7 linked regions of the Homo sapiens genome follow. The protein of the gene in region 4 purifies or fractionates together with the protein of the main gene of each other region. This does not show direct contact. Each region holds a gene or a part of one and is shown on either strand. Other genes may lie near its edges. The genes, in order: ACSF2, TMLHE, PDK1, NIPSNAP3B, GLS, MCCC1 and PDK2.

Region 1 (3,500 bases), on a different chromosome or scaffold from region 4:
CCTCCATTTGGGAGTTAGTTGACGGGAAAGCAAATCCCAGTCCTACCAGTCCTAACTTAGTGTGGCTTTAGGCAAGTTACTGAACCTCCGCAGACCTTAGTTTGTTTGTAAAATAGGCTGTTTGGACAAGATGTGCTCTACCTTTGGGAGAAGATTCTGTGATTCCTAAAGAGGCTGGAGTTTGAGCCTGATCCCTAAACCCAATAAGGCTGTGATTTGAAGTATGCAGCCTTCATACGTGTGTGAAATTTCACTTGGTCTCTTATGAACCCTGAGTATGCAGCTTCCTAACCTGACATTCTGTAATTCTGTAGTCCCCTGAGCAAAAAGAAGCATCAAGTTTTGTTTTATACACACACACGCACACACACACTTAAATATGTTTTTCTTTTTCTTTTTTTTTTTTTTGAGACGGAGTCTCGCACTATCACCAGGCTGGAGTACAGTGGCGCGATCTGGGCTCACTGTAACCTCCGCCTCCTGGGTTCAGCAATTCTCCTGCCTCAGCCTCCCAAGTAGCTGGGATTACAGACACCTGCCACCACGCCCAGCTAATTTTTTGTATTTTTAGTGGAGATGGGGTTTCACTATGTTGGCCAGGCTGGTCTCAAACTCCTGACCTCGTGATCCGCCTGCCTTGGCCTTCCAAAATGCTGGGATTACTGGACTCAAACAATCCTACTTCCTCAGCCTCCTGAGTAGCTGGGATTACAAGCACAAACCACCATGTGCACCTGGCTACCTCAAAGGTTTTCTTCCTAGAAAACTAATATCTAGCCTTGTATGTATTTTAGTAATCCTATCAAGGGACAAGTGTCTTGACTCAGCCCCCATCCCTGATTCCTAGGCACTCTTCTCCTGGGGTCTCTGTCCAGCTATTCCAAAAGAAAACCTGCAGCATGGATGCCTCCTGACTCCAAGTATTTCAGGCTACTCTGTCACCTGGGATGGAGTGCAGTGGCGTGATCACGGCTCACTGTAGCCTTGACCTCCCAGTCTCAGGTGATGTGCCCACCTCTGCCTCCCAAATAGCTGGGATTACAGGTGTGTACCACCATGCCTTGCTAAATTTTTTGTATTTTGTTTTGGTAGAGACAGATTTCCACTTTGTTGCCCCAGGTGGTCTCAAACTGCTGGGCTCAAGCGATCCTCCCAACTCAGCCTCCCAAAGTGCTGGGATTACAGGTGTGACCCACCGCACTGGCCCTTCTATGTCTTCTTGAGAGAGTTTTCTAAACCCAAATTATCACTTCTTATGTATTTTCTGTACATACTTACAAACACACCAGTGGTTCCATTCAAGATGCTGAAAATGGGCCAGGCACAGTGGCTCACACCTATAACTCAGCACTTTGGGAGGCTGAGGTGGGAGGATCGCTTGAGCCCAGAAGTTTGAGACCAGCCTGGGCAACATAGGGAGACCCCATCTCTACAGATAATACTTTTTACAAATTAGTTGGGTGTGGTGGCATGTGCTTGTGGTTCCAGCTTCCTGGGGGACTGAGGCAGGAGGATTGCTTGAGCCCAGGAAGTCGAGGCTGCAGTGAGCCGTGATCATGCCACCACACTCTAGCCTCAGTGACAGGGTGAGAGCATGTCTCAAATAATAATAATAATAATAACAAAACAAGATGCTGAGAATGGAAGCTTCCACCAATATAGAGTATCTTGTTCAAAATCTTTACTGGGCTGGGTGCGGTGGCTCATGCCTGCAATCCCAGCACTTTGGGAGGCTGAGGCAGGTGGATCACCTGAGGTCAGGAGTTCAAGACCAGCCTGGCCAACATGACGAAAACCCATCTCTACTAAAAATACAAAATTAGCTGGGCATGGTGGCATGCACCTGTAATCCCAGCTACTCGGGAGGCTGAGGCAGGAGAATCTCTTGAACCCAGTGGGTGGAGGTTGCAGTGATCCGAGATAGCACCACCTCATTCCAGCCTGGGCAAAAGAGCAAAACTCCGTCTCAAAAAAATAATTTTTTTTTTTTTTACTGTAGTCCTTACTAGTCTTTGTAGTCGTTTGTAGTTTGTTCTTTGTAGTTGGTATTTTTCAGAGGTCACATACTCCTCAGGGTGGTTATGTCGAGTGGTAGAAAGATCATGGGGCTTTATGATATAATTACATACAGTAAACTGCACAGATCTTTTTTTTTTCTTTTTTTTATTTTGAGACAGAGTTTCACTGTTGTTGCCCAGGCTGGAGTGCAATGGCGCAATCTTGGCTCATCACAACCTCCGCCTCCCAGGTTCATGCGATTCTCCTGCCTCAGCCTCCCAAGTAGCTGGGATTACCCGCATGTGCCACCACGCCTGACTTATTTTGTATTTTTAGTAGAGATGGGATTTCTCCATGTTGGTCAAGCTGGTCTCAAACTCCCGACCTCAGGTGATTTGCCCGTCTCGGCCTCCCAAAGTGCTGGGATTACAGGCGTGAGCCACCGTGCCTGGCCTGTGTCTGGCTTTTTTTGCTCAGAAGCCAAGGAGTGCTTTTGGGAGGAGCAGCTCATTAACCTTGACAAAAACTCACAAAAGTGAGTTTTACGTATTAAACAGCTCAATGTTTCAGAGTTCTGTATGTATTCTAGTATTATTCCTTTGTCAGACATGTGGCTTACAAATGTTTTTCCCCACTTTGTAGCTTTTTTTCATCCTCTTAAAAGGGTCTTTTGCAGAGCAAAATTTTTTAATCCTTTTTTTTTTTTAATTTTTTGAGAAAGGCCTCACTCTGTCACCCTGGCTGGAGCACAGTGGTGCAACCACGGCTCAGTGCAGCCTCAACCTCCTGGGCTCAAGTGATCCTCCTGCCTCAGCCTTCCAAGTACGTAGGACTATGGGTACACGCCACAAAGCCCAGCTAATTTAAAAAATTTTTTCATAGAGATGGATGGCACTGTGTTGCCTAGGCTGGTCTCCAACTCCTGTGCTCAAGTGATTTTCCCACCTCAGCCTCCCAAAGTGCTAAGATTACTTTACAGACGTGAGCCACTATGCCCAGCCCATATAGCAATTTAAAAAAATTTTTTTATAAAGTCTAATTTATTAAGTCTAGTTTATAAAGTCTAGTTTAGTGAGTTTTTTTTTTTAGATGGGATCTCATTATGTTGCCCAGGCTGGTCTCCAACTCCTCGGTTCAAGCAATTCTCCTGCCTCAGCCTCCCAAGTAGCTAGGATTACAGGTGCATGCCACTGCACCCAGCGCTCAGTGAGTGTTTTTTTTTGTTGTTTGTTTGTTTTTAATGGATCTTGCTTTTGGTGTCAAGCCTAATAACTTTTTGCCTAGCTCTAGATCCAGAAGATTTTATAATTTTTTTTTACACTTAAGTCTGATTCATTTTATTTTTGCTTATATAGAATGTGAGACTTAGTCAGAGTTCATTTTTGTTGTTGTTGTTGTTGTTATTTTTTATTTTTTTTATTTTTTATTTTTCGAGACGGAGTCTCGCTCTGTTGCCCAGGCTGGAGTGCAGTGGCGCGATCTCGGCTCACTGCAACCTCCGC
Region 2 (3,500 bases), on a different chromosome or scaffold from region 4:
GAAATATGGTTAAAGATGATCACTAATAAATAATAGGAAATTTTTTAAAAATAAATGTACATACCCAGAATAACAGATGGGTTAGGTAAATCTTGGTAATGTATATTTTGTAAGCTTTAAAAATTAATTTTAATGAAGGTTGAATTTTTAAAATGATAAAATTTAATTTTAAAAATTGTTAAAATGTTAAGTGACAATGGCAGAGTCCCAAATTTTATATATATAAATTACATAAACTATATTTATATACATAAATTACATAAAATAAGAGAATGTACAGAAAAACTGGAAGGAATGATGCCAGGCTGTCAATCATAGTTTCATCTGGGTGATAGAATGATAAACATGGTGACTTTTAATTTCCTCATACTTTTTTATGCTTTCCAAATTATCCAAAGTGTGATACTTTTTTACCAAGGGGAGGGAGGAAAAGAGAGAGAAGTAAAAAGGAGAGACAAGTTGTCAACATAGTCTTTCACTCCTTCTGCTGCTTCCTTTGCTTATCCTGAAGATTTTCTAAAGCATTTCAGGGTTGGTTTTCAACTTTTTTTGGGTGGGGTGTGCACAGCAGGTGAAGCCACTTACAAAGTAATTTTATTGTATTGTGTTGATGTCATATAATTAGACAGCAATGTCCTACATCATGTAGAAGAGGAAGGCAGCATTGAATAGTACTGAACTTGTAGCAGCAAGAAGGTGGGGTTCTAGTTCCACCTATAGTACTTAGTTGTGTGATCTTGAGTGAGTCACTGACTTTTTCTCCATCTGTAAAATAAAGATTAGCCCCTTCTAGCTCAAACATTCTGAGTTCCTATATAGATGGAAGACAGGGATGGGGGCAAGGGGAGAGAGTGCCAAGTAGGCTTGTAAAAGCCTACTTGGATTATCATTCTTTGATGACTTGATGAATTTTCCAGAAGATCTTTTACTATATAACTATAATTCTGTAAACTTATTTAGCCTCTGGGAAGATTTATTTGTTCATTCATTTATTCATGCATACCACTCAAACCACACATATTTCTTTCTCAGAAACATTCTAGGCATTCATTTTAATTTGGTTTCATAAACAATACAGTACTGGATAACTGATTGCTAGGAAAAAGATTCTTAACTAGTTGTAACCAATTACAAATATTGACATTATTTGTAATTATTATAGTGCCTTTTATTTTTCCCCTTAAAAGGGCCAGATGGTCATGTGACTAAATATGATTTGAATTGGCTGGTGAAAAACAGCTATGAAGGGCAGAAACAAAAAGTCATCCAGCCTAGAATACTATGGAATGCTGAAATCTACCAGCAAGCCCAAGTTCCATCGGTAGATTGCCAGAGCTTCTTAGAAACCAACGAGGGACTGAAGAAGTTTCTGCAAAACTTTCTGCTCTATGGAATTGCATTCGTAGAAAATGTCCCTCCCACTCAAGAGCACACAGAGAAGTTGGCAGAAAGGATCAGCTTAATCAGGTAATTCATTTGTTTCCTAAAATCCACAGTATTATAATTAATTTCCAGAGCATGAACACCAATAAATAAATGTAACAGGTATGGTCACCCTCGTTTTCAATCCAGAATATTTTGTAGCATGAATAAGGGACTCTCACTTGCAGTACTTTATTTGAGGTCTGGATTTCTAATCTCTAAATACACTTATGTGTAAAATATAATGATGACTGCAGAGTCATTGGTAATATGTTTCTAGCCCAGTGATCCCAAGTGACAGGTATTATTGTACACTGGAAAAAAACACTGACTGTAAGGAGAACTGGATAGTAGTCTGAGTTCTACCATCAAGTAGTTGTGTGACCATAGGCATGTCCATTACACACACACACACACACACACACCCCCTCGACCCCCACTGTCCTCTATTTTCCCATCTGTTCAATTTGACCTTCTGTGATTCCTGTGGCTTGATTCAGAGACTGATTGTTAATAACACTGCCTTAAAAGGCTATATAGCATTCAGCCAGCACATTCCCACCCATTATTTTCTTTTAATTATTATAGGAACCCTGATCAGTGTGTGTTTTGTCCCCGTTTTACTGCTGAGGCACTGACACTCAAATATACCAAGTGTCTTGCCCAGGAGTGCTCTACTAGTAAACAATAGAACTTGAATTCAAATAGCCCAGGTTTCCTAATCCTAAATACATTGTTTTTTTCATTACCATTACGCACTTTTGGGTGGTATATAGATTGATCTTCTATAGTATTAAGTGTGATGTCAACCTACTTTATTATAATTAGTACTTTCCTTTTACTTAATAAGATCCAGATATAGCTCATTTTGTAGTAGATAGTATGCTGGGTCTTCTTCCCTGTGCTGGTAGAGCATAATCAACAGCATCTGTGAGCCATTCAGTTTGAATCACAGTTTGAGAACTTTCAAGTGAAAGAAACTGTGCTGGTAAGTGATAAATTGAGACAGTTTTAGGGATGATAGTTCAAAAGGAAGAGCATTTCCTATTTGAACTTCAAGGGTTCAGAAAATAAGATGAACTTTGAAAGCTAAAGAATTAAAGTGACCTTTAGTCAGATTTGAGCCGAACAGGAAAATAATTACAAAATCAAAATATATGATGTATACTTCAAGGAGAGACACAACAACAATGGTACAGCAAGTCTCACTAAATACTTGCTAACACAAACTATCCTTTTCTCTTTTCTTTATTCCTCCATGTCCAAAAGATGAGTGAGGATCTACATTAATCACTTCTGTGTCTTATAAATAATATGAGAACTCTTCAGTCATCCTTGCAAATTGGATTATCCAAAATATTAGGAAATGACCACCATTATTGAAAAAATGGTACTAATAAAAGACAACAGCTATAAAAATAGTAAATAAAGTTAGACTTGGAACCAACCCAAATGTCCAACAATGATAGACTGGATTAAGAAAATGTGGCACATATACACCATGGAATACTATGCAGCCATAAAAAATGATGAGTTCATGTCCTTTGTAGGGACATGGATGAAATTGGAAATCCTCATTCTCAGTAAACTATCGCAAGGACAAAAAACCAAACACCGCATATTCTCACTCATAGGTGGGAATTGAACAATGAGAACACATGGACACAGGAAGGGGAACATCACACTCTGGGGACTGTTGTGGGGTGGGGGGAAGGGGGGAGGGATAGCATTGGGAGATATACCTAATGCTAGATGATGAGTTAGTGGGTGCAGCGCACCAGCATGGCACATGTATACATATGTAACAAACCTGCACATTGTGCACATGTACCCTAAAACTTAAAGTATAATAATAATTAATAAAATAAAATAAAAAAATCACTTCCAGAAGCAGCTATATCTTTTTCTGTGAAAGAAAGGTGAGCATAGAAAAGAACCTTGAATTTATGAAGGCTATGAAAACTGGGCACATAATCAGAGTGGGATGATTCTCCAAGCTTTCATAATACAATATTATACTTCCACAGTTTTCTCCCCAACTTTCTAGAATGTTAATAAGTGACAGAATTGTCAAGACT
Region 3 (3,500 bases), on a different chromosome or scaffold from region 4:
AGCCCCAGCTGATCTTTGCCATATGAAAATACTGCCCATATCATCTGATTGTTTTCTGATTTTAAAGGAAAGCTACAAGTCTAGATTTGTAATGTAAAATCTCTCACTTTTGAAAGATTGGTAACTAATTAAAACATTTTTTAAAACACAGAAGGCCTAGAAGAACATGGTTGCAGGTCTCTAGTTTATGCTGTATGGCCTGCAAGATGATGTAAGTAATATGACAATGTTAATAACCCATATACCAGAATTGGTAAACCAAAGTATTTGCCTTATGCAGCTACCTGCTTATTGCAGTGAAGGGTACTGAGAGTGTAATGACCATCTCTTGTCCTCAGTTAGTTACACATGTTTTTTGGACTGTCTTTAAAGTGAACAGTAACACTTCATTTTTTTAAACATGATTTTAATCTGAAAATAACTTCAGCAAGAGTTTACTCCTTGCTTAGGTATTGAGCAGACTTTACATGAATGATGTTTTTTAATCTTTAAAACAATTCATTGAAATAATGCTGTTTGTGCACAAAGAGGGTAAGTAGTTTAAGGTTACATAGTTAGCAAATGGTAGAATCCAAGCAGTCTTACTTTAAAAGTAAACATTATGTTATAGAGCCTTCTGAAAACAGTCATTCAGAGCTGTGGAAAATAAGTAGTCAAGCAGAATAATACAGATTTGTGTTTCTTTGAAGCAGAAAGAAAATAATAAAGGAGTGACTAGAATGATGAGTTGTTTGTTGTTTTTGAAGAGTTTTGTTGTTTGTATTTTAGTTTAACAGTCTTGTTTTGAAGCGCATTACTAACTAGGAATTCCAAAAATGTTTTAAGCAGTGGAAACATCATTGGAATAAGTTAATAGTACTCAGGATGATGACTTTGAATAGGAAAGCACTCATTTGGAAGTGTAAATTCAGATGGGTTATGTTAGAAAATTGGTTTCGTTACTGCATAATTAAGACTTCTTGGGCCGGGCACGGTGGCTCACGCCTGTAATCCCAGCACTTTGGGAGGCCGAGGCGGGCGGATCGTCTGAGGTCGGGAGTTCGAGACCAGCCTGACCAACATGGAGAAACCCTGTCTCTACTAAAAATACAAAATTAGCCAGGCATCATGGTACATGCCTATAATCCCGGCTACTCAGGAAGGCTGAGGCAGTAGAATCACTTGAACTCGGGAGGTGGAGGTTGCAGTGAGCCGAGATTGCGCCATTGCTCTCCAGCCTGGGCAACAAGAGCAAAATTCCATCTCAAAAAAAAAAAAGACTTATTTTCTCTTTTATTTAGTTATTTAACCATGCAGTGTCTTCTAAGTGACAGAGATGGGAAGACTAGATGATTTGAAGATTTGTCTTTTAATATAATTGTTTACTTTTCCTCTCCCATTTTATAAACTCATAGGATGAGTGAAATGAGAATTCTTTTCTGTTTTTCTGTCCTAAGTGTTTCCTTCTCTCTTTGAACCCTAGGGAATAGGTCCAAAACAGGCAGGCTTTATTGGCTCATTCATCTTGATTCCTTGCAGAGCAGAGCAGGTGTTCTCTAGAGGCAAGTGCTTTGTCTCCTCCTATGCAGAATGTCTCTGGAATACCATCCTCTTAGCCAGTGCTCAGATGACCTTAGTTGATAACAGTTAAAACCATTAACATTTTTTGGATTACGTTTTGTGGCAGCCTTACTCTTAGGAAGCCAAGAAAAGAATTAAATCTTGAAAGTTTTATTTTGGAGGTCTGTATACTTTCATAGATTTGGTATATTTTATGATCTGAAATACATTTAAATAAGTATAGGAAAACATGAACCGATTTTCCTTTTATTAAATTGGGGATTTTTTGTCTAGCATAGTTGGTTAAGCTTATATTTTTGTATTAAGTTTACTTGTCAAAATATTTGGCTGTTTTGACAGATGGGTTTGTTTAGCTTTACAGATACTGTGATACGGATCAGAAACCGACACAATGATGTCATTCCCACAATGGCCCAGGGTGTGATTGAATACAAGGAGAGCTTTGGGGTGGATCCTGTCACCAGCCAGAATGTTCAGTACTTTTTGGATCGATTCTACATGAGTCGCATTTCAATTAGAATGTTACTCAATCAGCACTGTAAGTGTCCCTCATGAGTCAAGAGAAGAAGCTAAATGAGATGTGTTGGCATATTTTAAATTTATTTAGGAAAGTTCCATTTAGGTAGGAAATTTAGTTTTACCTTTTGGCTAATTAAGAAAAATAAATAGACTGCCATCAAGAAAGGTGTTTTTATTGAATGTAAAATACTATGTTTATCCTAAAGGAAAATATTTGTTCTGTTTGGTACAATTTAAACAGTATTCAGATTTGGAAAAGAGCATTAGGTGGTTTAGCTTATTTTGTTGGTTTTTTTCCTTTTTGGATAGCTTTATTGTTTGGTGGAAAAGGCAAAGGAAGTCCATCTCATCGAAAACACATTGGAAGCATAAATCCAAACTGCAATGTACTTGAAGTTATTAAAGGTAAATACTGACATTTCTCCTTGCAAAAAAAGATACAAAAATCAAAATTATTGTTATTTCTTACTATTAAAACATCTATTTGTATCATGAGATAAAATGGTAGGCACAAATGCATGGGTTTGAAAATAACCTTATAGTATTATTTGTGCATTATGTATAGGATGACTATTTTATTGATAGAATTATTTGTTAGGCAAAGTTTGGTGATACTATAGAGGATATCTTTTTTGTTTTGTTTTGTTTTGTTTGAGACAGAGTCTCACTCTGTTGCCCAGGCTGGAGTGCAGTGGTGTGATCTCAGCTCACTGCAGCCTCTGCCTCCTGAGTTCAAGCGATTGTCTTGCCTCAGCCTCCCCAGTAGCCGGGATTACAGATGCTCAACACTACGCCTGGCTAATTTTTGTATCTTTAGTGCAGGCAGGGTTTTACCATGTTGGCCAGGCTGGTCTGGAACTCCTGCCTGCCTGCCTGCCTGCCTCGGCCTCCCAAAGAGCTGGGATTACAGGCGTGAGCCACCGAGCCCAGCTGAGGGTATCTTTCACTTAAAAAAGAATTGAAGTCCCTACTGCCCTGTTTCTAATTCTTACACTATGAGCAGTAATTCATAACAATTTGGTTTGAATCATTTCACACTTTTTTCTATTTATACCACTTGTACACATACACAATTGATGTTGGTCTTACATTGTTGTTTTTAGAAAATGGGGTGCTCTATGTTTTTTTCTACAAGTTTACAGACATCTTGCTGTTCAGTACATCTGGATATGCTCCAAGGTTTTGAATGGCTCTATGGAATGTATCAGTATGTGTTAATTAATTCTCCTGTTCATGCACACTTAGGTTGTTTTAATTTTTTTCTGTTACCACCAATACCAGCAGTACTGCTGTGAACATCCTTAAATACACGCTCACTTTTGCTAGTATTTTAGAGGTGAGATTCCTAGAATTAAAAACATTTAAATGCATATAAAATTTTGGTATCTCCAAAAAGGTTTCAAACAATGGATAAGAGTGTT
Region 4 (4,136 bases):
CATTTTTACAGACTATCTTCTGATAATCTGTATTTACAGCTATGTTATTTTATATTTTTAAAATCTTACAGCTATAAAATAGTAAATTGTGAATTAGCTGTCCAAGGGCAATTTGGAAAACAAACTGTACAGTTTCCTCTCATTTATCAGGCTCTAAGCGATCTGCAGTTTATCTGGGCTATTATGCAATGTGAGATATTATTTATGAGAGGCAGGCAGTGGCAGCTTAAACAGACATACCTCCTCAGCATTCTTTTCCATGCAGAGTTCAAAGAGGCCTAAGACATCTCACATTTATGTGAAATAGTTGAGGCACAAGTATGTGGTTAACTACACATAAATTACCAATAAAATTAAAAGTTAACTAAAATACTACAGAAGACATTTAATATTTTGCTTCAGACTGTTATAGTACCTTAGGGTTATGAACATCAATTACCTTTGAGCCTTACTATATTTAAAGGGAAGGGGAAGCTGACATTTTTATCTTTTTTAATGGGTACACTCTACGTTACCTTAAAGGCTTCCCCGGTTTAAGCAAAAATAGAATTATGTGGTTTAAATCATATACCTTATTCTTCATACTTAGCTCCAAGTAGATTATGACTTTTCCTAAAACTTAACATGACAGAGATTTGCCTTCCAGGGGGTCTAATTTGAAGAGGAAAGTAATTTAAATGTATAGGTTTATATAATAGCATTGTATTTTTCTCTATTTTATTCATTCTTTCATTCTCTTCGATGACTCCCAGCACCTGCGCGTCCATCTTCATTCTTAGCCAATGACCTTTCCTTTTACTTAACAGAGAAAATAACAATCAGAAGAGTCTTCATAAGTTCCCACCCCGTCTGCCCGCTTTCTACAGCCAACCCCACATGCCCTGCCTTCTCTCCTTTCACTGTGGATGAACCGCCCGTGCCCCAAGCAAAGACAAACCCTCCACTTGAACACTCACTTGCTGAAGGATGTGGCTTAGGCAGTTTTCCTGTCTCCTGAAGCCACAGTATTCCCCTTCAACTGGATTCTTCTCCTCAGCATATAAATATACTTTTTTTTCCTATCTTTAAAAAAAAAAAAGAGTAAAATCACCCCATTTTTTTCCTTTACAATATGACTCAAAAGAGTAGTTCATACTTCCTGCCTCCATTTTCTTCCCTCACATTATCTCTTAAACATTCTCTGATCACGCCAGCCAAATTGCTCTTGTCAACTCATTTCCCAGTTCTCATTTCACTTGACTTGTTAGCAGTTGACCTCTCCTTTCTTCTGGGAAGTTTCTTCGTTTCTCCGAAACACTCACTGCACAAGCCTTCATATCTCCTAGTCTCCATCTTGTCTCTTTGACCTCTGATGTAAGGACTGAGTCCTTGGACCACTTCTCTTTTCTATTTATACTTACTCCCTGCGTCATCACCCCCAGTCTTGTGGCTTCAAATGCTATCTGTGTGTGGATAGCTCCTCCAGTCCACACCTCTTTTCTGAATCTTTTTTCAAATTCACACATGTGAATTTGAATTCCAGGCTCATCACATCCAGGTGTGTTCCCCACACCTCCACCTGAATGTCTATTAGAAATCTCACACCCCTCTTGTCCAAAACTGAGCTCTTGATCTTTAACCAGAAACTTTATCTCAGCTATTGGCAACTCCAGGTTTCTGTTTTGCTCAGGCCACAGACTTCAGAGTCATTCTCACACTGCCTTTTCTCTCATACACCATTATGTACCTGTCAGCAGGTCCCAAATATCTAGAATTTGATTGCTTCACATCCCTATAGCAACTCTCCTGGTTCAAGCCCATCATCATCTGGATTTTTGGGAAGTGGTCTTAACTGGTGTGCTGCCCTTCCCCTCTGCTCTCAACCCTATTTTCAACATAGCAGTCAGAATAATCTAAAATATAAACCAGATCATATCACTCCTCTGCTCAACACCCCCTCCCAATACCTTCATGTCATCCTCAGAGTTATTGTCCAAGCCTCTAACTGTGGTCTACAAGTCTTTACATGATCTGTCCTGTTACATTTTCCACTCTCGCTCCAGACCTGACCTAAGAGGCTTTTCTCTGAACTTGCTAAACATGCTCTTACCTGAGGGTCCATTCCCACTGCCTCTGCCTGGAATGCTCTTCCCCAGACATGCATCTGCGTGGATCATTTCCATGCCTCCTCAGGTCTTTGCCCTCATGAAGCCTTCCCTGACAACCCTATTTAAGATTGTAATCCCCTCCCACAGTGGCCCCTATCTGCTAGAGACTGAATGTTTTTGTCCCCCCAAAATTCCTATGTTGAAGCCTTAATCTCAACATAGGAGGTTTGGCCTTTGTGAGTTAGTTTTAGATGAGGTCATGTGGGTAATAGAATTAGTGCATTTATAAGGGCGTGAAGAGCCCTCACTGTGAGGAAACCAGAATGTAAGCCTTCACCAGAACTTCTTCATGCTGGCACCCTGGTCTTAGACTTCCCAGCCACTAGATCTGTGAGAAAGAAATGTTTGTTGTTTAAGCCACCCTGTCTATGGTACTCTTGTTACAGCAACCTGAACTAAGACACTATCCCTCTCCCCTGCTTTCTTTTTCTGTTATCACCATAATTAATGTTTTACTTATATATGATTTGTTAATGTATGTCTCTTCCCACTAGAAACCGAATTCTATGACAGCAAGGGTTTTTGTTTTCATTATTGTCATATTACCTGTGCCTGGCATGTGATAAGCCCTAAGTACTTGTTGACTGAATTAACATATGAGATCTGTGAGTCTGAAAAAAGAAGTACATCATTCCTTCACATGTCATTTTGAGCCACTGTTAACAGATTACATAACTGTTATTGGAAGTGCCTCACTACTCCATTTGGAAAGTATTCCTGGAATACACGATGAATGACTCAGTAGAAGTTCTGGCTATGGGGGAGTGCCATCAATAAATAAAAATAATACCATTGTCTGTTGGTTATAAGTTGCTGTCACAGACTATGAAGGTATTTGAATTGTATTTTCAGGAAGAGAAACAGATATGCAACCAATCTGATTTGGTTCCACACCCTGCCACAGAAGTCCCAAAGGAGAAGCAAATGCCACTTGTAGACTCAAACTCTGGACTTCATTCTCAGCACCATCTCTTAACCTACTGAGTAAATCCTATGAACCTGACTAGGGTGGCAACTGAAGTTGTAGTACTTTCTGTCTTCAAAGGAGGGTGAACCTGGAGTATGTTGGAAGAAGTGTTAGGTTCATTAGAGACACCTCTTTCATAACTGCTGTCACCTAGAATGTCTATTCTCTAAGCACCTTCTTGAAAGAAGCACATTCCCCCAGGAGGAGGAAATGGTTTGTTTTCTTTAGTGACAGTTGGCCCAGGATCCTAAGGTAAAGGAGTATGGGCACTAGACAAAATGAGTTTTATAATAGTCGATTGGAAGGAATGGAAGTTTTTGAATCACAGGCTTCTGCCTTGAAAGGGCAAGTCCGTGGTGGTCATGAACCACCCAGAGTGTGTACAAGGCTCCTGCCAGAAGAAATGCCTGTAGGATTAAAAGCAAAACAGCAGAATCAAAAAGGAAGGGCACGATGATGCCCAGGTGCAGCCTATATTATTAACAGACAAGGAAAGAATCCAAATAAAAGTTCTGTAAACCAGCTGTTGTCCTGTTTTCTGTTTCCCTTCAAAGCAAAAATATAGATTTGCATATATTTGCAGTCTCCCCTTCCTTGCCTCTCAGTCTTCCCTGAAAATCTATTCCAGTTAGGTCTGCATCCTTGTCATGCTGAAATGACTCTTAGGAAGGTCACCAAGGACCTCTGTCTTAACAAATTCAATAGCCATTCCTGCCTTTACTCATTTACATTCCTTACTCATCTTCTCAGCAATGTTGGACATAATTGACAACTTCTGCCTTCCTGAAACAATAATTCTCTGAGCTTCAACATATGGCATTATACTCTTCAGATTTTACTCTCTCTCACTGGCCAGTCCCTCTCAATTTCCCTGGCTAGCTTCTCTTCTAAATGTTATAGGATCTCAGGCTCAAGAATGTTCCCTATCTTCATTCTCTCTAGGTAATCTCATTCAGTCCCGAGGCTTAAATATATACGTACCAATAACTTGCACACTTTTTTTTTTAGATGGAGTTTCGCTC
Region 5 (2,616 bases), on a different chromosome or scaffold from region 4:
AGTTGTAAAAAAGCACTATGATTAAAAACTCCTTTATTGGCAGTATTCTAAAACCTCATGTTAGGTTGACAGTCTTCTTCCCTTTCCCCAAATTTTAATACCCACCCCAGGTTTCTAAAGCAAAAAATTGAAGAGCATTTTCCTCCTGTGTTTATAATCCCAACTAAAACACTATGTAATACATGTTGGAAATATTACTGTGCTTTGTATATGTATTAATTTTTTTTGCCCTAAATTGGCCTCTAGGAATGTGAAAGTAGATGTACCCACCTGATAAGAAAAAGTGAGCTAAGTAACTAACTTGATAACTAGGCATTCAACAAGTCTTTTTCTCTATTTCATAGAATCAGTGTCACCTTAAATTATAATAGGTTTGCACAGAATTCGTGAATTCTTGAGATAGAGTCTTGCTCTGTTGCCCAGGCTGGAGTGCAGTGGCGTGATCTCGTTCACTGCAACCTCTGCCTCCCAGGTTCAGGCAATTCTCCTGCCTCAGCCACCTGAGTAGCTGGGATTACAGGTGTGTTCCACCACGCCCAGCTAATTTTTGTATTTTTAGTAGAGAGGGGTTTCGCCATGTTGGTCATTCTGGTCTTGAACTCCTGGCCTCAAGTGGTGCACCCACCTTGGCCTCCCAAAGTGATAGGATTACAGGCATCACTGTATCTGGCTGAAATTAGTGTATTCTTTAAAGTTCATATTTTTCATTAATTCACAGAAGAATTGTAAAAAAGGTAACACGCAGTTGACATTCCATTTTTCCAGAAAGACAGATAATTACATACTGTAGAGGATGACTCAAAAGTCTGTTTCAAGCCACTGACTTCCTAAACTAATGAAGGCCTATTCAAAGTCACTTAATTCAGCTGTTTTTTTTTTTTTTTTGATAAATACAAAGATACATGTAAAGTTTTACTTACCTGATTTTAAAAACAGGCTACCAAAATTTATCCAAATATATTAAAAAATGAGACTGTTTTAAAAACCTTTCGTTTCCATATTGTGACTCCACTAAGCGGGTAAAAAGTTCAGGACAGAGATGGAAAGGAAAGAAGGAAACAGGAAGAAGTGAAACTAGGAAGGTGGTGCCAGTGGCACATGGATGAAGAAAGAGAGATCATCAGCCATGGAGAATTTTGTAATGTAAGTAGAGAGAGAGATTGGGTAGGAAGACAGGCTTCACAGTTTGTAAAGTGTAAGGGAACTACCCATCGTACCCTGTCATTGACTAGGGCTGTGAGTTATGTAGTTCTGTCTCCTCTTGCAAAAGACTTACCACTTCTGGCAAGTGATTAACCACTTCTGGCAACTCTTCATTTCTTCTTATCCTTGAATATTCATCTACATCACTCTAAACAGCACAGCCCCAGAAGCATGGAAAGGGGAGTTATTAGTATGGAAAGGGGAGTTACTCTTCTGGTGTAGTGGTCCGATTGAGTCCATGGCTTCCCAGCCTTACCAGAGGTGATAAAAATGTCAATTCCTTTGGGGCCAATCTTGCTCCTCCAGTGTGTTTTAGCCCTAATGAGGTCATGGTTATTTCTAGACTTCTGAGACTTACTGTGGCTTTGAATTGACACAAACACTAATTTTCTGTCAAAGGCTAGAGTGATGGATGTTATATGCCTGAATTTTCTTTGAACATTTTATTTTAAAAGAGATACTTTGGGCTTTTCATGAAACTAAAATTCTGGAACCCTAGAGCAGTCTATTATATCTGTCACCACAAGGACTTTCCTTAAAAAGCTCCCTCCATAAGCACTTGGATGTGTAAACAAGATCCTTTCACAGATCTTTTTCTCTTCCTCTCCATATCCCAACTTGTCTTGGAGACTACTTTTTGAATTATAAATCCCTTTCTGCATTTCTATTATTAATTTTTATTTGTAAAATTGCTAAAATAGCTAAATTTGGCCATTTAACCTGCATTTAAAATCTAGGAATGTGGGGTGATCATCTTTGTACATAAATTACCTAATGACCCTGTCCATGCTGTGCTACGTGTTTAGGTGGAATAACACTCCCATGGATGAAGCACTGCACTTTGGACACCATGATGTATTTAAAATTCTCCAAGAATACCAAGTCCAGTACACACCTCAAGGAGATTCTGACAACGGGAAGGAAAATCAAACCGTCCATAAGAATCTTGATGGATTGTTGTAATGGTCTCAAATCCCAAGATTTAAATCACTTACCTATTTAATTGTGGAAAATGATTATGAAGAACATGTGTATTTCTATCTGGTAGTGATGTATATTTTACATTTGTCATTTCAGTGTTACTGGAGTTTTCTTCATTGTGCACACAGGACAAATCTGATCTCTTTGGGAAAAAATAGAAATAAAACAATCTCCCTCCATAATGTGAGCAATATTACCTCGTGCATTGTATAATTTGATGTAAAAGAAATAGTTACCAATGCTAGCTTGTGTGGTCTTCCATGATTTATTTGTGTTTTGTGAATTTTCAATTTATGGTGATGATCTGCTGATATGCATTTATAAAGTAAGCTCTGTTGTACAGTCTGTCCAAATGGGTCAAGGTTGCCTTTAGAAGCAAATAGTGTGATTTTCAAGACTTCAAATACAAATTTAGTTTAAGTGTTTGAACAA
Region 6 (2,390 bases), on a different chromosome or scaffold from region 4:
TAGAAAAGAGTTTTACTTTAACTTTGTGAAATTGCACCTGTCATTTCTGATTCTGAAATTAATGAAATTATCAATAGCTTGGAATCAGGCGATAATCCAACTGAATGTTAACTGTTGGTATTTTCTAAGATAATCCAACTGAATGTTAACTGTTGGTGTTTCTGGAATGTTAACTGTTGGTATTTTCTAATGTTAACTGTTGGTATTATCTTGGTTCTAAGGCCGAACCAAGGATGCCAGGCATCAGTTTCAAAGTGAAAACCGCAATCAAATTAAATTAGCTGTTTAGGTTTTTAGATGGTTCAAATGGTAGGTCAGTGATTCTTAGCCCTGGCTGAATATTGCAGACAGTCCTCAACTTACAATGGTTCAATTAAGGATTTTTCAGCTTGACAATGGTGCAAAACCATACACGTTGAATATGCTCCTCAGCTTACATTGGATTTATCTGGACCTGACCCCATCGTAAGTCAAGGAGCATGTGTACAGTCACCTGGGGAGATTTGAAAAAATTCTTCCCCAGACCCATTGAATTGCAATCTCCAGGAGTAGAGCCCAAGGATCAATACTTTTGAAAGGCTGGGCGCAGTGGCTCATGCCTGTAATCCCAGCACTTTGGGAGGCAGAGGCAGGCGGATCATTTGAGGTCAGGAGTTCACGACCAGCTTGGCCAACATGGTGAGACCCCATCTCTATTAAAAATACAAAAATTAGCCAGGCATGGTGGTGCATGCCTGTAATCCCAGCTACTCAGGAGGCTGAGGCAGGAGAATTGCTTGAACCTGGGAGGCAGAGGTTGCAGTGAGCCGAGATCTTGCCACTGCACTCCAGCCTGGGTGACAGAGCGAGACTCCGTCTCAATTTAAAAAAACAAACAACAAGGCCAGGCGCAGTGGCTCACGCTTGTAATCCCAGCACTTTGGGAGGCCGAGGTGGGTGGATCATGAGGTCAGGAGTTCAAGACCAGCCTGGCCAACATAGTGAAACCCCGTCTTTACTAAAAATACAAAAATTAGCCAGGTGTGGTGGCACACACCTGTAGTCCCAGTTACTTGGGAGGCTGAGGTGGGAGAACCGCTTGAACCCGGGAGGCAGAGGTTACAGTGAGCTGAGACCATGCCGTTGCACTCCAGCCTGGGTGACAGAGTGAGACTCCGTCTCAACAGCAACAACAACAAAAAACAAAAAAAAAAAAACAAAAGCAAGCAAACAAAAAACTGTTGAAAGCTTCCTAGGTGCAATTCTCATGTGAAGCTCAAGTTGAGAACTGCGAGCTACACCAGAGCTTCCCAGTCATATCGTTGAAAGGTTACTGCTGTGTCCCAGTGTTCATTCCTCTCAACTTGTTACTGTTCTCCCTGTGTGCTGTGATGTTAAAAATAAAAACAACAACAACAACAAAGCGTTGGAAAGCACCGAGAGATGACAAAACATCAAAGTTGGCTACAGTTTTCATTTTTGGTCTCCCTTTCTTGACTTGGTGTATACTCAGTCCTCATTAGTATTGCAGCTATCATTTGTCCTGTCATGTGTCTCTGCAGCATACCATAAAGTCTCCAAAGGATGGCACAGTAAAGAAAGTGTTCTACAGAGAAGGTGCTCAGGCCAACAGACACACTCCTTTAGTCGAGTTTGAGGAGGAAGAATCAGACAAAAGGGAATCGGAATAAACTCCAGCAAGGAAATGGCCAGTTAAGTAGTGTCTTCTCTCTCCACCAAAAAGAGGAAGTGCCTCCAGCTTTTCTGGGGGTCTCATAAAGAGCAGTTTTACTAAATGATTGTATGCTTATGCTGAACACCTTTCATATTGGAGAATCATGCATTTGGGTCACTAATTATCTCAAAATATTTCATACTAATAAAGTTGAATTATTTTTTATTGGAAGCCAATGTTTGTTTCTGCCTCAAATTTTTTACAAGGTAGTCTCTTTTAGGAAGGGGGGAAGAGAAAAGGACATTTAATTAAATGAATTACTTTCCAGTTGCTGTTATGATGAAAATGAGCAGTAATATGTTTCAGAGACAGGTGCCCTGGAGTTCAACAACTAAGGTTTTGTCTGGCCAAAAAGCAACTTGCTAGGTAGTTTAAAAGACATGGATATTAGTCGGGCGCGGTGGCTCACGCCTGTAATCCCAGCACTTTGGGAGGCCAAGGCGGGCAGATCACTTGAGTTCAGGAGTTCGAGACCAGTCTGGCCAATATAGTGAAACCCGTCTCCACAAAAAATAAGCTGGGTGTAGTGGTGAACATCTGTAGTCCCAGCAACTTGGGAGGCTGAGGCAGGAGAATCGCTTGAACCTGGGAGGCAGAGGTTGCAGTAAGTCGAGACCGCACCACTGCACTCTAGCCTGGGTGACAGAGCGAGACTCTATCTCAAAACAAATACATA
Region 7 (3,500 bases), on a different chromosome or scaffold from region 4:
AGTCGCACTCAGGGTAGACTCCCAGCCAAACTCCTCAACAGGAGCGCAGAGAAAGCAGCCTGGGGCGAGTGCAGTCTTTGCCAGGACTCAAGAGGGGAGGATGAACATCCCCTTCTCCCTCTCCCCTCCTCTGTCCTGTGGGTCCCAGGGGGCGAGATGACACCACACAGGTCTGCCTCTCAGGGCCCATTCAAGACCTGGTCTTTGACCCATTCTCCAAGCCAGGACTCCCTTCACTTCCTGCTGCTTCCTCAGAGGGCACCTAAGTCCTCTTTGGGAGCTGAGCAAACAGGAACTGATAGGGACAGAGGACACCACTTCCACCAGCCAAGGCCTAGGAGCTGCTGACCTGGTCAGCCCTCACCCCAGCCAGGCAGAGAGGCAAAACCTGGGGGTCCCCGGCAGCTACGAGATTGGAAAGGTTCATCAGCCCTCCCCCATCTGCCCCAGGCATTGTCAGGGAATCAGTGGGCTCAGAACTGGCAGGCGGTGCAAGCTCTGCTTCCCTGGGCCACACTGAGGGCTGGGGCCAGCTCCCTGGATGGGGGTGGAGTTTACCAGCAGCCTGGGGACAGCATGTGTCCTTTTTAGGAAATGTCCTTGGAGGAAGTGTTCATGTGTGGCGCTGGTCAGCAGCTAGTCCCGCTTCCAGGACACTGGTCAGAGTTACCGATGAGGCCTGGGGGCTCCCGCTTGGAAACCCCTCCAGCTCCTCCCATCTGCCCAGACAGAGCGGCAGATGGCACCAATGCATGCTGGCTCCCTCATTCCTGCCCAGGGGCTGTGGCTTACGGCCAGCACCCTGTACCTGGGACTCAGCCCTTATCCCCCCTCTGCTATCTGTGCTGGGAGAGGGGCTTCGGAGGGAAACAGATATGAGGACACTGGCACCATCTGGGCCTGGTGGCAGGGCCATGGGAGGTTGGAAGGCACCCACATCCTTAAAGCCATCAGTAGCTATAGTGGGTGCCCACCTGCATGTGAAGGGGAGGCAGTTCTCAATTTATTTCAATAAATCCTTATGATGTGCCAGTGACCAGAATTTCTGTCTGCTCCAGTTGTTGGGTTGGCCGGACTCTGCTGGGCCCTGAGTATGGTGGGACAACAGGTCTGTCACCAGGTGCTGGGCCATCCGGCGTTCTGAACAGATGGCTTTGCCCAGTGTTTTACTCACAGTCCTGAGCTGGGCCGGACGTCCCCGGTGCGTCATGTGGTGGTCACAGGGCACCGCAGTGTGCGTGTGTACGTGCGCACGTGTGGGTCCCCTCCCCCAGGGATGCAGCCAGGCCAGTCTCATTCAGTCTCCTCTTTACTGTGGGTGTGGGTGTCACTGTCACTGCCACAGCCACTGGGAGGGACACACAGCTTTAACCCCTGTGTGCTTAGGGGAAGGGTGGGGGCATTCAGGGTTATAAAACTAACTATATACACAGAAGGTCCTAGGGAGAAAGCCACCCTGAGCACACATGTCTGGGCACAGTGGGGGCTGGGGGCTGGAGCTCAGGCAGGATGGACTAGGCTTGTGGAGGAGCGGGTGGGCATGAGCATGTGAGGACATGCTGGGAGGGCTCAGGAGGTGGCACAGACATTGCCAAGGCCACTGCAGGGCCTCGAGCAGCTTGGCTGGATGGCAAGCTCTCGGTCTAACAAGGTTCTTCCACTTTAGAGTTGGGCCCTGTGAGAGCCACCCCCTCCGCCACCGACCTTCAAGCCCTGAGCGGAGGGAGAGGCTGCAGGACCAGCCTCATTCCCCACTCACGGGTGTAACTCCTTTCCCCACTCAGTCCCCAGGTCTGGAGGGCACCCACCCTCTTCCTAACACTTCAGCAGGCCAAGGCCAGGGTGCCTTTGTGGGCTGGGGGAATAAGGCAACGGGACATCCACTTGGAAGGCCTGTGCTGTGGAGGGTGCTGAGGGGGACCCAGTACCCCTGGCAGAAAAGTGACAGCCCTGGTCTCAGAGAGGAGGACTGCCATGGGAAAATGTCTCTGGGACACCCCATCAGGGTGGAGACATCCCTAACCCTCAGGCATCGCCCACAGAGATAGGGAGGCCACCGAGGGGTCTCCACAGAGATGGACTGGCACTTAGGGACCATCACAGACCTATCACCGCAGTGACTTCCATAGAGACAGAACCTGGTCATCAGGGAGAACCCACCCCCTGCTCCCCCAGGAGGATGGTGAGGGGCACCACGGTGGGGGGACCCAGAGGCGGCAGTCCGTCCTCTCAGGTGCAGATGCACGGCGGCCCTTAGCTGACGCGGTACGTGGACGTGTTCTTGGGCTCCGTGCTGGGCACACACCAGTCGCCGGCCTCCTGGATGGTCTGGTAGTGGCGCCAGGCTGACTTGTTGTAGACAGGCAGGCGCTCCACCGAGTCCGTGGACAGGGCCTGGGGAGTGTCAGGGTCAGCCCCTCCCACCTCCCTGTGCCTTGTCCACTCCTCAGCAGACCACCCCACCCCAGCTCAGCGGCAGCCCAGCTGCCAGACACGGGGGCCTGGAAAGACCACAAAAGGGTGGTCCCTCCTGTGTCCCGCTCCTGCCCATTCAAGCAAGCAGCTCCCTCTAAGGGAGGGAGAGGGAGGGGGAGGAGGCTGGGCTGTGTGACCCTGAGCAAGTCACGGACTCCGGGCCTCAGTCTTCTCCTCTGAACTGAATGGCAAGACCTAGGGTGTCCCCTTCCTTCTGGGTCTAACAAGTCAAGGGTTCCCAGCACAGGGGTCTTAATCATAGACCACAGACTCCCCTAAATTCCCTGACAAGCAGTGCGTGTCTGGGGGTTGAGGGTTCTTCAGGTTGAGGAACTGTAGCTTTGCTTGGATTCTCAGAGTCTGGGGCCAGGGAAGGACTGGGGGGATGGAAAGGAAAGCTCGCAGCTGGCCAAGGCTGCCCAGGTCCTATCAGCAAAGCTCTTCTCCAGCTGGGCTCTGCGGGAAGGGCCCTCACCTTGAGATAGATGACAGCATCGGTCCCAAAGCCTTCCATGGAGAAGAGCTGCAGGTCTCCCTGGAAGTACTTGGCGTAGAGGCGGGAAATGGGGAGCCCATAACCAAAGCCAGCCTGCAGCGGGGCAGGAAGGCAGTGAGGATGAGGAGGCTGGCAGGGGCCTCCTGGAGCTGCAGGGACTGATGCAGGGAGGGAAGGGTGTGGAGCTGGGGTCACATGGCAGGGGTCCCAGAGCTGGGAGGGGACATGTGGGAGGGGACACTGAGGTAAGAAGTGTGTGTGGGGTGAATGGGGCAATCATGAATGCGGGAGGGAGGCTTGGGCAGAGAGAGGAGTTCCGCTCAGGGGCCAGGAAGTCAGAGCAGGCCCCACGGCTCCTTTGAGTCTCAAGTTTTCTAACAGGGAGGTGCTGACAAGTTGGACAACACCAGGAGAAAGGTAGAAATTGGGGGTTTGGGAGCTACAGAAGAGAGGGAAGATGGAGGAAAGGTGACAGAGAGACATCCGACAGGTGAGATCTGTGCAGACTGGGGAGATGTGGGAGGTGCGG

The links.
Region 1: the proteins of NIPSNAP3B (region 4) and ACSF2 purify together in Homo sapiens (affinity purification with mass spectrometry; one large-scale study listed by BioGRID and IntAct). This does not show direct contact.
Region 2: the proteins of NIPSNAP3B (region 4) and TMLHE purify together in Homo sapiens (affinity purification with mass spectrometry; one large-scale study listed by BioGRID and IntAct). This does not show direct contact.
Region 3: the proteins of NIPSNAP3B (region 4) and PDK1 purify together in Homo sapiens (affinity purification with mass spectrometry; one large-scale study listed by BioGRID and IntAct). This does not show direct contact.
Region 5: the proteins of NIPSNAP3B (region 4) and GLS purify together in Homo sapiens (affinity purification with mass spectrometry; one large-scale study listed by BioGRID and IntAct). This does not show direct contact.
Region 6: the proteins of NIPSNAP3B (region 4) and MCCC1 purify together in Homo sapiens (affinity purification with mass spectrometry; one large-scale study listed by BioGRID and IntAct). This does not show direct contact.
Region 7: the proteins of NIPSNAP3B (region 4) and PDK2 purify together in Homo sapiens (affinity purification with mass spectrometry; one large-scale study listed by BioGRID and IntAct). This does not show direct contact.

What each region holds. Positions count from the first base shown.
Region 1 is NC_000017.11:50,432,718-50,436,217, forward strand, and holds part of ACSF2 (medium-chain acyl-CoA ligase ACSF2, mitochondrial isoform 2 precursor), read left to right. Parts: intron 1-3,500. UniProt on the Homo sapiens protein: Acyl-CoA synthases catalyze the initial reaction in fatty acid metabolism, by forming a thioester with CoA. Has some preference toward medium-chain substrates. Plays a role in adipocyte differentiation.
Region 2 is NC_000023.11:155,511,953-155,515,452, reverse strand, and holds part of TMLHE (trimethyllysine dioxygenase, mitochondrial isoform 1 precursor), read left to right. Parts: intron 1-1,187; coding exon 1,188-1,467; intron 1,468-3,500. UniProt on the Homo sapiens protein: Converts trimethyllysine (TML) into hydroxytrimethyllysine (HTML).
Region 3 is NC_000002.12:172,562,590-172,566,089, forward strand, and holds part of PDK1 ([Pyruvate dehydrogenase (acetyl-transferring)] kinase isozyme 1, mitochondrial isoform 2 precursor), read left to right. Parts: intron 1-151; coding exon of another isoform or gene 152-211; intron 212-1,521; exon of another isoform or gene 1,522-1,541; intron 1,542-1,913; coding exon 1,914-2,098; intron 2,099-2,388; coding exon 2,389-2,484; intron 2,485-3,500. UniProt on the Homo sapiens protein: Kinase that plays a key role in regulation of glucose and fatty acid metabolism and homeostasis via phosphorylation of the pyruvate dehydrogenase subunits PDHA1 and PDHA2.
Region 4 is NC_000009.12:104,774,129-104,778,264, forward strand, and holds the end of NIPSNAP3B (protein NipSnap homolog 3B), read left to right. Parts: 3' UTR 1-3,636; downstream 3,637-4,136.
Region 5 is NC_000002.12:190,960,821-190,963,436, forward strand, and holds part of GLS (glutaminase kidney isoform, mitochondrial isoform 1 precursor), read left to right. Parts: intron 1-2,009; coding exon 2,010-2,166; coding exon of another isoform or gene 2,167-2,206; 3' UTR 2,207-2,616. UniProt on the Homo sapiens protein: Catalyzes the first reaction in the primary pathway for the renal catabolism of glutamine. Plays a role in maintaining acid-base homeostasis. Regulates the levels of the neurotransmitter glutamate, the main excitatory neurotransmitter in the brain.
Region 6 is NC_000003.12:183,014,718-183,017,107, reverse strand, and holds the end of MCCC1 (methylcrotonoyl-CoA carboxylase subunit alpha, mitochondrial isoform 1 precursor), read left to right. Parts: intron 1-1,541; coding exon 1,542-1,670; 3' UTR 1,671-1,890; downstream 1,891-2,390.
Region 7 is NC_000017.11:50,108,851-50,112,350, reverse strand, and holds the end of PDK2 (pyruvate dehydrogenase kinase, isozyme 2 isoform 1 precursor), read right to left. Parts: intron 3,065-3,500; coding exon 2,951-3,064; intron 2,395-2,950; coding exon 2,254-2,394; 3' UTR 199-2,253; downstream 1-198. UniProt on the Homo sapiens protein: Kinase that plays a key role in the regulation of glucose and fatty acid metabolism and homeostasis via phosphorylation of the pyruvate dehydrogenase subunits PDHA1 and PDHA2.